Regions from separate parts of the Homo sapiens genome. Here regions 1, 2 and 3 are each linked to region 4. The links come from fine-mapping of genetic effects on gene expression. A gene starts in region 4. Each other region holds a variant in brackets. All regions are shown on one strand. Distances are from middle to middle.

What was found. PIP is the estimated chance that this variant, and not a neighbour inherited with it, causes the effect. A credible set is the group of variants that fine-mapping cannot tell apart.
Region 1: its variant is the best candidate, but not a certain one, in a credible set for the expression of TKFC in whole blood (TOPMed, PIP 0.88).
Region 2: its variant is the best candidate, but not a certain one, in a credible set for the expression of TKFC in whole blood (INTERVAL, PIP 0.67).
Region 3: its variant is the best candidate, but not a certain one, in a credible set for the expression of TKFC in whole blood (TOPMed, PIP 0.81).

The regions. Positions count from the first base shown.
Region 1 is chr11:61,524,387-61,527,071 of GRCh38, reverse strand. It overlaps SYT7 (synaptotagmin 7), which reads left to right. Exons shown (of 13, transcript NM_001365809.2): 10 at 2,540-2,685. Among named protein-coding and RNA genes, the nearest start is that of LRRC10B, 17 kb to the right of the region's middle. The variant C/T (reference allele first, on the strand shown) is at 1,188.
Region 2 is chr11:61,417,497-61,420,181 of GRCh38, reverse strand. CPSF7 (cleavage and polyadenylation specific factor 7) reads left to right here. Exons shown (of 10, transcript NM_001142565.3): 5 at 88-233. Among named protein-coding and RNA genes, the nearest start is that of CPSF7, 11 kb to the left of the region's middle. The variant C/T (reference allele first, on the strand shown) is at 1,338.
Region 3 is chr11:61,374,416-61,377,100 of GRCh38, reverse strand. It overlaps a transcript of TMEM138 not described here. Among named protein-coding and RNA genes, the nearest start is that of TMEM138, 13 kb to the right of the region's middle. The variant G/A (reference allele first, on the strand shown) is at 1,630.
Region 4 is chr11:61,331,969-61,334,625 of GRCh38, reverse strand. It overlaps TKFC (triokinase and FMN cyclase), which reads right to left and starts at 1,398. Exons shown (of 18, transcript NM_015533.4): 1 at 1,297-1,398; 2 at 1-6. DDB1 (damage specific DNA binding protein 1) reads left to right here and starts at 1,521. Exons shown (of 27, transcript NM_001923.5): 1 at 1,521-1,718. The coding sequence starts at 1,658. RefSeq lists enhancers at 914-1,436, 1,437-1,959 and a silencer at 1,259-1,518.

The sequences.
Region 1 (2,685 bases), 190 kb before region 4:
GTGTGATTAAGGAGTGATTTCTATCCCAGGGCCTTTGGGTGCCAGGACCCCGCTTAGACAAACCGTAACCCTTTGCCAATGGCCCCCGGTTCAACCAGGGAGAGTAAATCCCTACCCCAGCTGCCCCAAGCCCTAGCCTTCCAGAATCTTCACCGTGTACCCCAGGGACCTTTCCCCACCTGCCTTCCCAGCCACTTAGCACCCCACCTCTTCTGCAAGATGACAGCCAGGTCACCCACTAAATGGCACTGAGGGTGAGCAGTGAGTGTCCATGTGTTTCTGGACGCCCTCCTTTGCAGGCACCATGAGGGCCCGTTTAGAGATAGCTCAACCAGCAAGAGGTTCAGCTGTCTGGAGGTATATGTAGGCAGCTGGCAGGGCGAAGTTTTTGAGCAGAACTCCAATCCTCCGGTCTCTTCCACGAGCATGTACCCAGCAACAGCCATGAGCTGGGCACTCTTCTACGTACTGGGGATGTAGAAAAGAATGAGGCACCATTATGGCCCTCAGGGCATTTCTGGCCTAATGGAGACCCAGATGTGTAGATAACTCAGCCACACACAGCATGACAGGAGCTGCAGGAAGCCAGTATGAGCTCCCTTTGGTGGTGCTGAAGAACATTTCCCAGAAGAGGGGCCATTCAAAATGGGTTCTGATGGATGAGTAGGAGTTTGCCAGCTAGGAGCCTGCCTCCTCTGGTGTTGATGAGAGCTGACTGGGGTGCAGTGACCTCTTGGAGCTTCCAATATTCCCAGAACACTTGTCCTCATGCATTTTACCTAAATTGATGCCAAGGGTCCCCTGGGCAAGGTCCCTGGGAGGCTCTGAAATAAGCAAGACACAGCTTCCCACAATATGAGGAAAGGGACCCTGAACAAATTCAGAGTCTCCTCTTCCAGCTCACCTGCTCCTGTCAGAGCTCCTCGGTGCTTCCAGAGTCTCTGGGGGAAGGTGCTGGAATCTTCTAGAGCTCCTCCTTCCCTTCATCTTCTGCACCAGCCAGGCTGAGGTTCCAGGCGTCCTCCTTCCTGCTCATACCTGGTTTCAGAATCTCCTCACCTCAGGCCTCCAGGCTGGCCTGTGCCCCCCGGCACCTCCTGGGCCAGTCCCACCTCTGACTAAGCCTCCAAAGAGCTAATGACTCCTGGCTTCAGACCTTCACCTGGCCCCCTCTTCCCTTCTGCATC[C/T]CATCCAAGCCCCTTCTGCTCCTCTCCCTCTGACCTTAGCGGACACCTCACCTCAGCACAGTCCTGCTGCTCCATCAGGCCATTTCATTGGCATTGATTCATCTGTTCAATTATGCATTCACTTAACAAATATGTATTGAGTGCCTACTATGTGCCAGAAGCGGTGTTAGGCACCGAGAGCCAGTGGTTGGTAACAGAGAGGCCTTTGTGGGAATCCTTGCCTTCCGGGAGAGCCAGACAAAAATCAGGGAAAGAGACAGAGAAATCTATTACCGCGTGTGTTATGTTTTGCGGAAAAAAAGGTGCTAGAGCGGATAATGGGATCCGACACTCTCTGGGGTGCCAGGAAAGAATGCTGAGACCTGAAGGATGAGAGTAGCCAGGAGGGGGGTCATGATGGGGCCAGTGTGCGCCCGGCCCTGAGGCGGGAGGAGTCGGGGTGTTGAAGGGCCAGGAAGGAGGCCGATGTGGCTGGAGCCCAGTCATTGAGTGAAGAGAGGTCACAAGCCAAGCAGGGAGAGGACAGCCGGGCCAAATTGTGGAAGGACTTGAAGCCAAGGTAGGGTGCCCGGCTTTTATTCTAAGTGCACTGGGAGCCATTGAAAGGCTTTAAGCAGGAGCATATCATGATGGAATTTCTATTTTTAAAAGGTCTCTCTGGCTGCCGCATTGAGAATGGACGGTAGGAGAAAGCGTGGATGCGGGGAGGGCGGTTTGGAGACACTTGCAGCTGCCTAGGCAAGAGGTGCCAGCGGCTCGGATGAGGGAGGTGGCAGTAGAGAAGGGGACGCTGCGGTAGGAAGGATGGAAGCACAGGCAGGAGGAGAGGGGTGTGGAGTCACAGGACACTTGTCACCTCCTGCTTCTGTGCCTTTGCCTTTTCCCTCCCACCGATGCTTCCCCATGTCCCTCTGCCCTGAGTCCTGGGGCCTGCGTACTGGCAGCTGTGGCCACCTAGACAGAGCCACTTGCCCAGACCCGCCTCGGGACGATTGGCAGAGGCTGCTCAGCCACTGAGATGGACACAAGGTGCATGGGTGAATGGATGATCGCAGTTCTACTCTTTACTAGCTGGGAGTCTGGGCAAGTACTTTAAGCCGTCTGAGCCTCATCTGTAAGATGGACGAGATGCCATTCACCTTGGAGAATTGTTGAGGGAATCCCATGAGACGGTGACAGTTCTTGCTAGCACTTCAGTAAGGTCTAATTGCAATCCGGTGTGCCTGCTGGCCCGGTGGGGTGGCAGCGGGAGGGCACAGGGCCTGCCTCCTCTTCCCAGGGCCTTCCTTGCCTCCCGGGCCCCGTGCAGCCCCTCTGTCCCCCTCTTCACTCACACTCATCTATACCCCCAGGTTTTCCCTATGAGAAGGTGGTGCAGAGGATCCTCTACCTCCAAGTCCTGGACTATGACCGCTTCAGCCGCAACGACCCCATTGGGGAGGTGTCCATCCCCCTTAACAAGGTGGACCTGACCCAGATGCAGACCTTCTGGAAGGAT
Region 2 (2,685 bases), 86 kb before region 4:
AATTTTTACTAAAAGTGGAAGAGAATTTCTTTTTTCTTCTCTTGGCTGTCTACAGATTTCATTCATTTTTAATTTTTCTTTCCTAAGGTATGCTGAGGTGGTGGTAGCCTCTGAAAACTCTGTCCACAAATTGTTGGAACTCCTACCAGGGAAAGTTCTTAATGGAGAAAAAGTGGACGTGAGGCCGGCCACCCGGCAGAACCTGTCACAGTTTGAGGCACAGGCTCGGAAACGTGAGTGTGTCCGAGTCCCAAGAGGGGGTACGTGGAGACCATCTGTATGAGGGGGGGGTGTTTGTGGGTTTGTTTTCTATGGTGTAGGCTTAGCCTACAGTGTGGGTGAGTTTGGGGGAGGGTGATGGTGGTTGTGAGTGGTGTCATGGTCGACAAGTAGTCCTCAGAATAGGTCTATATAGAAGAAAGAGCATTGTGCTGGGAGTCAAGTAGGTTCAGGTTGTAGTTTGGTTCTGCCACTGACTCGTGTGACCTTGGCCAAGTCACTTTACTACTTAGGGCCTGTTTCCCCATCTGGACTAGTGACATGATGTTTAAAGTTCCATCACCTCTAAATTCTGTGTTTCTGTCTAAAACTTGGCATTAGGTGAATGGGCTTAATTTTTAAGACATGCCTCTCTATAAATTATCAAGAAGCAGCCACCCTAAAATGTAACTAAAAGGTGCCTATAATCTTTTCATAAACGTTGATTGGAAGGATACTGTAAGGAATCAACCAAGAGGAGTGTTGGAGAATAAGACTTGAACAATATTTCTCCAGCATTGTCCAGGGGAGAGGGTGCTCTTTTGATTACCAAATGTTTTAGTCTGCTTGGCAGTTATATCCCATTAGTAAAGAAAGTTACAGGCCGGGCGCGGTGGCTCACGCCTATAATCCCAGCACTTTGAGAGGCCGAGGTGGGTGGATCACGAGGTCAAGAGTTTGAGACCAGCCTGGCCAACATGGTGAAACCCCATCTCTACTAAGAATACAAAAATTAGCCGGGTGTGGGTGACACATGCCTGTAATCCCAGCTACACGGGAGACTGAGGCAGGAGAATTGCTTGACCCCGGGAGACGGAGGTTGCTGTGAGCTGAGATCAGACCACTGCACTCCAGCCTGGGCAACAGAGCAAGACTCCATCTTGGAGGGAAAATAAAAAAGTTAGGGGCTGGGCATGGTGGCTCACACCTGTAATCCCAGTGCTTTGGAAGGCTGAGGCGGGCAGATACCTGAGGTCAGGAGTTCGAGACCAGCCTGGGCAACATGGCAAAACCCTGTCTTTACTAAAAATACAAAACTTAACCAGTTATGGTGGCACATGCTTATAATCTCAGCTACT[C/T]GGGAGTCTGAGGCAGGTGAATCTCTTGAATCCAGGAGGTGGAGGTTGCAGTGACCTGAGATTGCACCACTGCCTTCCAGCCTGGGTGACAGAGTGAGACTCTGTCTCAAAAAAAAAAAAGAAAAAAGAAAGTTACCTCAGAACTACCTTAGTTTGAGGACAGTTTCCCCAATGTCCATCTTACTCTCTTTATTCTGACTGTACTCACTAAGCCACTTTCTGATGCTAATTTGGTTTCCCAATTAGGGTCTCCTACTAGGAAGAGAATTCGCTGACCAGCCGACACAAGTATTCTGGTCTGCTTGGCAATTACATTTCTCATTGTAAATTAATAAATTGGTGTTATGGTTTATGAATCAGTCTCTTGTGAGTTTGGTTAGCATGAATCAGTCTCCTAGGGCCTAGTCACCCCAGTTGAAGCAAGTTTCTGAACCTGAGAAACCTGAGGACTAGACCTTGGATTTTCCTGACCTCATAAAGTGCAGCCACCCTGCAAGACCTTCCCTGAGACAGCCAACCACCCTTATTTTCTTTTGCTACAGTGGGAGGAACAGCAAAGTTTCATCACTGATGTTCTGTCACTGCTTAGGTCCAGCTCTCAAAATAGTGCCTTGTATTGATTGGGTGTATCCTCCAGGTAGAAATAGGACCACTTTGCTCTTGCATAGGAACAGCTGTTCTTTTAACTAGATTGACAGCCTAGATAGATTTGGTGTGAACTCTTGTTGTTCCATGTTAGAAAGGACACACTCTTCTTCCTTGACAAGTTGTATTTTCAAGTCCCCTCTGTTTTGGAGTCTTTCTGTAATTCACCCCTGACTTTCCTTAGGTATGTAATTTTACAACTGTATTGGGGGTAACGTTCTACTTCTACTCAGCTACTTTTCATGTTACTTTTTTTTGCTGAAAAGATTGTGTAACTGAGTGCTGTTTTTCTGCTCTGTCATGCTGATGGACCTGGGCTCTGTTAATTCACTAAGTAAAGCTGGTGGACTTCCTCTGCATAGAAATGTTGCGTCTTTTGGGACTTGTAGCCATAGATACAAAACAACCTTTGCAGATGTGACAACAGTAGTAGCTGGGAAAGTGGTTAACTGTCAGATGACACTTGCCTTATACCTTTTTGTTCTTCAGTTTGAGAGAACTCTAGGAAAGAGCCAGTTGCCATGTGTTTGAGACCTGAAGAACAAGACAGCACTGGCACTGTTCTGTAAGAGAAATCTAGGTGGTTGTCAACATAATTGATTCCACCTTAGGCTTTACTCAGGAGCTGGGATTAACTATCATATTCTAGTTTAAGGAGCACTCTTTCCTCCACACTTGCTGCCAGTGGCATCTTTCTATCTCC
Region 3 (2,685 bases), 42 kb before region 4:
GAATGCATCTCTAAAGGAGGCAATCAGATATGCATTTGTCTCAGTGAGCAGAGCAGTGACTTTGATTAGAATGGGAGGCAAGCTTGCCCCAAGCAGTTCCCAGCTTGACTTTTGCCTTTAGCTGAGTGATTTGGGGGCCCAAGATATTTTCCTTTCACATTTCCTCCCCTTTCTTTTTAAAAATCTTTTAGAGAAAGCATTTTAGAAAAAAATGAGTCTCTTGTCTCATGTTTTATCTTATCTCTCATGGCTAGGATGGTTTATTTCTAGACGAGTAGGTCCTGAGTTATTAGGAAAACTCATTTTTAGAAGGTTGTGAAGTGTCATGTCCCATAAAGACAAAATAGGGGGAGGAAGGGAGAACAACAACAAACAAAAGAACAATCCTGGAAAATTGCTATAAGCCACATTACTCTGAAGTCCATACATCGGTAGGCAGGTATGAAAGTGGCTTATGTATGTAAATAGGTTGCTGTTATTTTTCTTCTGAAGTTGTCTAGATTCAGTTTGCAGGGCTTTATGAAAGCACAGCTTAGTTTTCAGTGACTCCAAATTGGAAAAAAATGGAAAAAAGAAGAAAAAAATGAAAACATTATTTTGAAGACTTGTAGTCAAGAAAAATTAGAATTCGGTCCAAACTGTAGAAAATAATAAAATTGAAAAACATTAGGCAAGACAAGAATCTAACAACAGGTGTGCTATAGTTTTTGAAACAATTTTTCTCTTTCCAGTTTTCCATTATTTTTTTTTTTGAGACAGAGTCTTGCTCTGTCATCCAGGCTGGAGTGCAGTGGCGTGATCTCAGTTCACTGCAACCTCCACCTCCTGGGTTCAAGTGATTATCCCACCTCAGCCTCCTGAGTAGCTGGAATTACAGGCATGCACCATCACACCTGGCTACATTTTGTATTTTTAGTAGGGATGGGGTTTCACCATGTTGGCCAGGCTGGTGTTGAATTCCTGACCTCAGGTGATCCGCCTGCCTTGGCCTCTCAAAGTGCTAGGATTATAGGCATGAGCTACCGCATCTGGCCGAATAATTATTTTTTACATAGGCTTTTAAATTGGCTTTGATGAAACTTTGTTCCATAGAAAGAATCTCAGATAAGACTTTTTAAAAGCCGAGCCCAGCCGTGGATTTGTGCCATCAAATACCTATGAATTGCATGATCCTCTCCTCTTGAGGTTCCAAGATAAACTTGGGACTCCTGGGCCTGTCAGAAAGTGACGTGCTTTACTTGCCACAGGTCAGAAACCTTGGACAGCGGCTGTGTGGACAAAGGTATGGGGCCAGTTTTTCCAAGGGGCTTTTATTGGCTCCATAAAGTCAAATTTGATTGCTTAAAGGAAAGCACACCATTCCAGTAAAAGCCTTGGTAAAATAACCAGTTTCTCCAATTGTGTCCTGTTACAAACGAAAACAGATTCTTATTGCACTTATGCAAATAACAGTATTGTCATAAGTTAAGAATACTCACAGCTGGGTGGAGTGGCTAATGCCTGTAATCCCAGCACTTTGGGAGGCTGAGGTGGGTGGATCGCCTGAGGTCAGGAGTTTGAGACCAGCCTGGCCAACATAGTGAAACACCATCTCTACTAAAAATACAAAAATTAGCCAGGCATGGTGGC[G/A]CATGCCTGTAGTCCCAGCTACTTGGGAGGCTGAGGCAGGAGAATGGTTTGAACCTGCGAGTCAGAGGTTGTGGTGAGCTGAGATCACACCACTGCACTCCAGCCTGGGCAAAAAGAGTGAAACTCCATCTCAAAAAAAAAAAAAAAAAAAAAAGAATACTCACAAATAATCTCCAAATTCTGGAGAAATCAGAGAAAAACAAATATGCTGCAAATTTTGTTCATAGGAGTATACTCAATTGTTAAAGCTATAAATAGCTTAAAAGTTTTCTTGACTCTGAAAAACAAAACACAGGATCAGCAACATTTTAAGTGTAAAGTTAAAAAGATCACTTCAGACACCTATTAGTTTAGTCCATGCAATTAATTCCTGTTCTGCTTCATTTTTCATGAACATTTCAGTTCTCCATGAGTCGTGAAAGTTTTTCCTCTATTCTGATGTGACAGTCTCTAAAGTTATCAGAAACCTTATTCAGGGGCACCTATTAGAGTTTGTTTGTTTGTTTGTTTGTTTTTGAGATGGAGTCTAGCTCTGACACCAGGCTGAAGTTCAGTGGCGCGATCTCAGCTCACTGCAGCCTCCGCCTCCCAGGTTCAAGCAATTCTCCTGCCTCAGCCTCCTGAGTAGCTGAATAGCTGGGATTACAGGCACCTGCCACCACGCCCAGCTAATTTTTGTATTTTTAGTAGAGACAGGGTTTCACCTTGTTGGCCAGGATGGTTCTCAATCTCCTGACATCATGATCTGCCCACCTTGGCCTCCCAAAGTGCTGGAATTACAGGTGTGAGTCACCACGCCTGGCCTAGAGTTTTATAGCTGATTATAAAACCACCTTCTAAAGAGGACCAAAGCAAAACAACAATTGTCCATGGATGACAAAATGTTTTAGGGCAGCTATAGTCAAAGACAAAACTGACAAGGAAATTTGTTACCTCTGTGGCACATAATAATTTAACATAACAGTTATAATTATTACCGATAATGTACATTAAGTCATATCAGAATTATAGGAGTTTCCAGGGCCAGTGGCAGTGGCTCGTACCTGTAATCCCAGT
Region 4 (2,657 bases):
CAGCACCTGCAGGAGTGGGTAACGATACAAGCTGCGGAAGGAACTCGCAGTCGACTGGCACAATCACGCCTTCAGCACCCTAGTAATTAGGGAGCTGCCCCAGACTTCGGTCCAAGTCCAAACTCTAGTACATGGGCTACGGATGGAGAAGAGTGTGGGGCTGACCAAGGTTCATGCCTGCACTTCACTGCCAGAAGACAGATCAATCCATGTCAAGCACAGGTCTGCCTTTATGTCCAGGAACAGCACCCACTTCATCACTAAAGGACAGTGATCCTCAGAATAACTATCTTTTACACGGGCATCACATGCAGCGAAAAAGTTAACAAAGCTCGTCACACGCTTGCCCTCACTGGCCTTGGCACCAAAAGGGAAGGGAATGGGGGGAGCTAGCCAGGTTTGTGACCCATTTTACTTCTGGGAAACAGACTCAGAGAGCTCTAGGGACTTGTCCAAGGTAATACAGGTAACAGCCAGAATCTAAACCAATGTCTAGTTTTTCTACAGAGTGTGTTTTTACTACTGATAATTCAGTGCCTCCAAAGTCAGGCAGAGTCTCTGCTATGGGAAAGGCAAGATGTAAACCACGATGACTTTCTAGCTTTTCCTCAGTTCAGCCTGGTTCAGCAGCGTGTTGGCCTCTGTGTGGGTGCACAATAGGAAGAATCAACATAGCTCTGCCTCAGCCTACTTGGGGTTGTGGGGAGGGTCTTAGGTAAACCAATTCCTCCCTAAGCCTCAGCTTCCTCATCTGTAAAATGGGGGTTGGCTCCTCTCTGGCATTCTGCGAGTGTGCCAAGCCACGTGGTATTCCTCTTGTTCCCGGGGAGCCTGTTTGATGTGGGGTACCCTGGAGGCTGCAGGGCTGACGGCTCTCCTGGCTCATTAAGGTTCCCTACGGAGAAATACTGGTTTTGTGTTTGAGGTTCGAATTTGTAGAGCAATAGGGGCACTAATAACGTTGGGCAAGCAGACCGGTGGGCCCTTTGAAGTCTGAAGAATCAACGCGCAAAAGGGAGGAGGTGAGCAGGTGGTCGTTCAAACGTCAGGCGAGGGCACCAGCTGGATCTGGAGGAACTGAGACAGTGAAAGGAAAGCAGGCAAGGTTCTAGTCTGGGATATGCACGAATCGCGGTCTCCCTTCCCTCTCTATGCCTCCGCAGTCCTTCCCGTTCCCAAAGGAGGAACAGCCCGAGGGCTCCTGGAGCAACGGAAGGAGGACTGGATGCGGGGAAGGGCAAAGGGCGCGGAACGGGGTGGGGAGTCTGCGGGCGAGCTCGGAGGACACTGGCGCACCTCCCCCGCCGGCTCACGGCCGCATCCGCCACATCCGAAGGCGCCGCGACTTCCCGGAGACCCCGAAGCGTGCGCTCTCATCCGGGTCCTGCGGGCGCTGGCGGAAAGAGGCGAGGCGGTGCCTCCGGGGGCGGGGCCTCCTTCGGTTGGCGGCCTCGGGCTTCGGGAGTCCTCCAAGAGGCCAGGTGAGGCCGTCCCGTGATGCCCCGCGCCCCGGCCGCTCTGGCCTGCAACGTGTCTCTGGGGCGGAGGCAGCGGCAGTGGAGTTCGCTGCGCGCTGTTGGGGGCCACCTGTCTTTTCGCTTGTGTCCCTCTTTCTAGTGTCGCGCTCGAGTCCCGACGGGCCGCTCCAAGCCTCGACATGTCGTACAACTACGTGGTAACGGCCCAGAAGCCCACCGCCGTGAACGGCTGCGTGACCGGTGAGGCTGCCGGGGCCGGAGACCCCGGCGAGTGAGGGAGTTGGGGGGAGCCGCGGCCTAGGGAGGCCCGCCGCCCCGGGGGCGGCCGGGCAGGAGTGGGCCCGGCGAATGGAAGGCGCTGGCGGCCGAGGAACCTCCCCCAGCACCGCGACCTCGAAAGAGTCGTCCCTGTACGCGCTTTTTGGGGGTTGGAAGCCGCTCTCGAGGGTCCCCTTTCGTCCTGGGGAGGTCATTCGGCCTCGAGAACAGGGCGGGCCCAGTGAGACAGAGGAGTGTGAGTTGGTTGTGCGGTGTCGTTTGGGCCCGGAGATTGGCTTTCTGTGGCCAGGAAAAGGGGAGGTGGTAATGACGACTTTGGGGTCAAGATTTTCCTGTGGGGAAGTCTGGGGGGCCCAGGAGGTGGAGGGATGTGAGGAATGCCCGCATTATCCCACAGAGGGAGAGGAGCCCTCTTCAGGCTAACCCCTTTGCCTGGGGCTGTTGTTTACATGAGGGCCCTGCTGGAGAAGAGGGTTTGGTTTGCCTGGCCCAGTGCTGGGTTTGCCTTGTTGACGATGCGCTTGGATTGTTAAGGACACCGATGTTCAGAACCCGGGAAGAGTCATCTTAACCCACATTCTCAGCTGAATATGCAGACCCCAAGCTTGCATGTTTATATACACCCTAATCATGATTCCAAAACAAAACTGTTGTTCAGAGTTGGAGGTAGCTGAGTGTGGATGGAGGTATTGGTAGACTGCCAGGAGGGCAGGGGGTGTGGACAAAACAGTGTTTTCATATAAAGCTCTGGGACTTCTTCATTTGACTTGGTCTGTCAGATAAAAGTTTTGTGAGACTTTAGATGAAGACTGGAAGAAGTGAACACTTTCTCCGGCATTCTCAATTAGAGCCTGCCACTGTAACTGTAATAGAGTAAAATTGGAGGGGCAAGAGGCATGA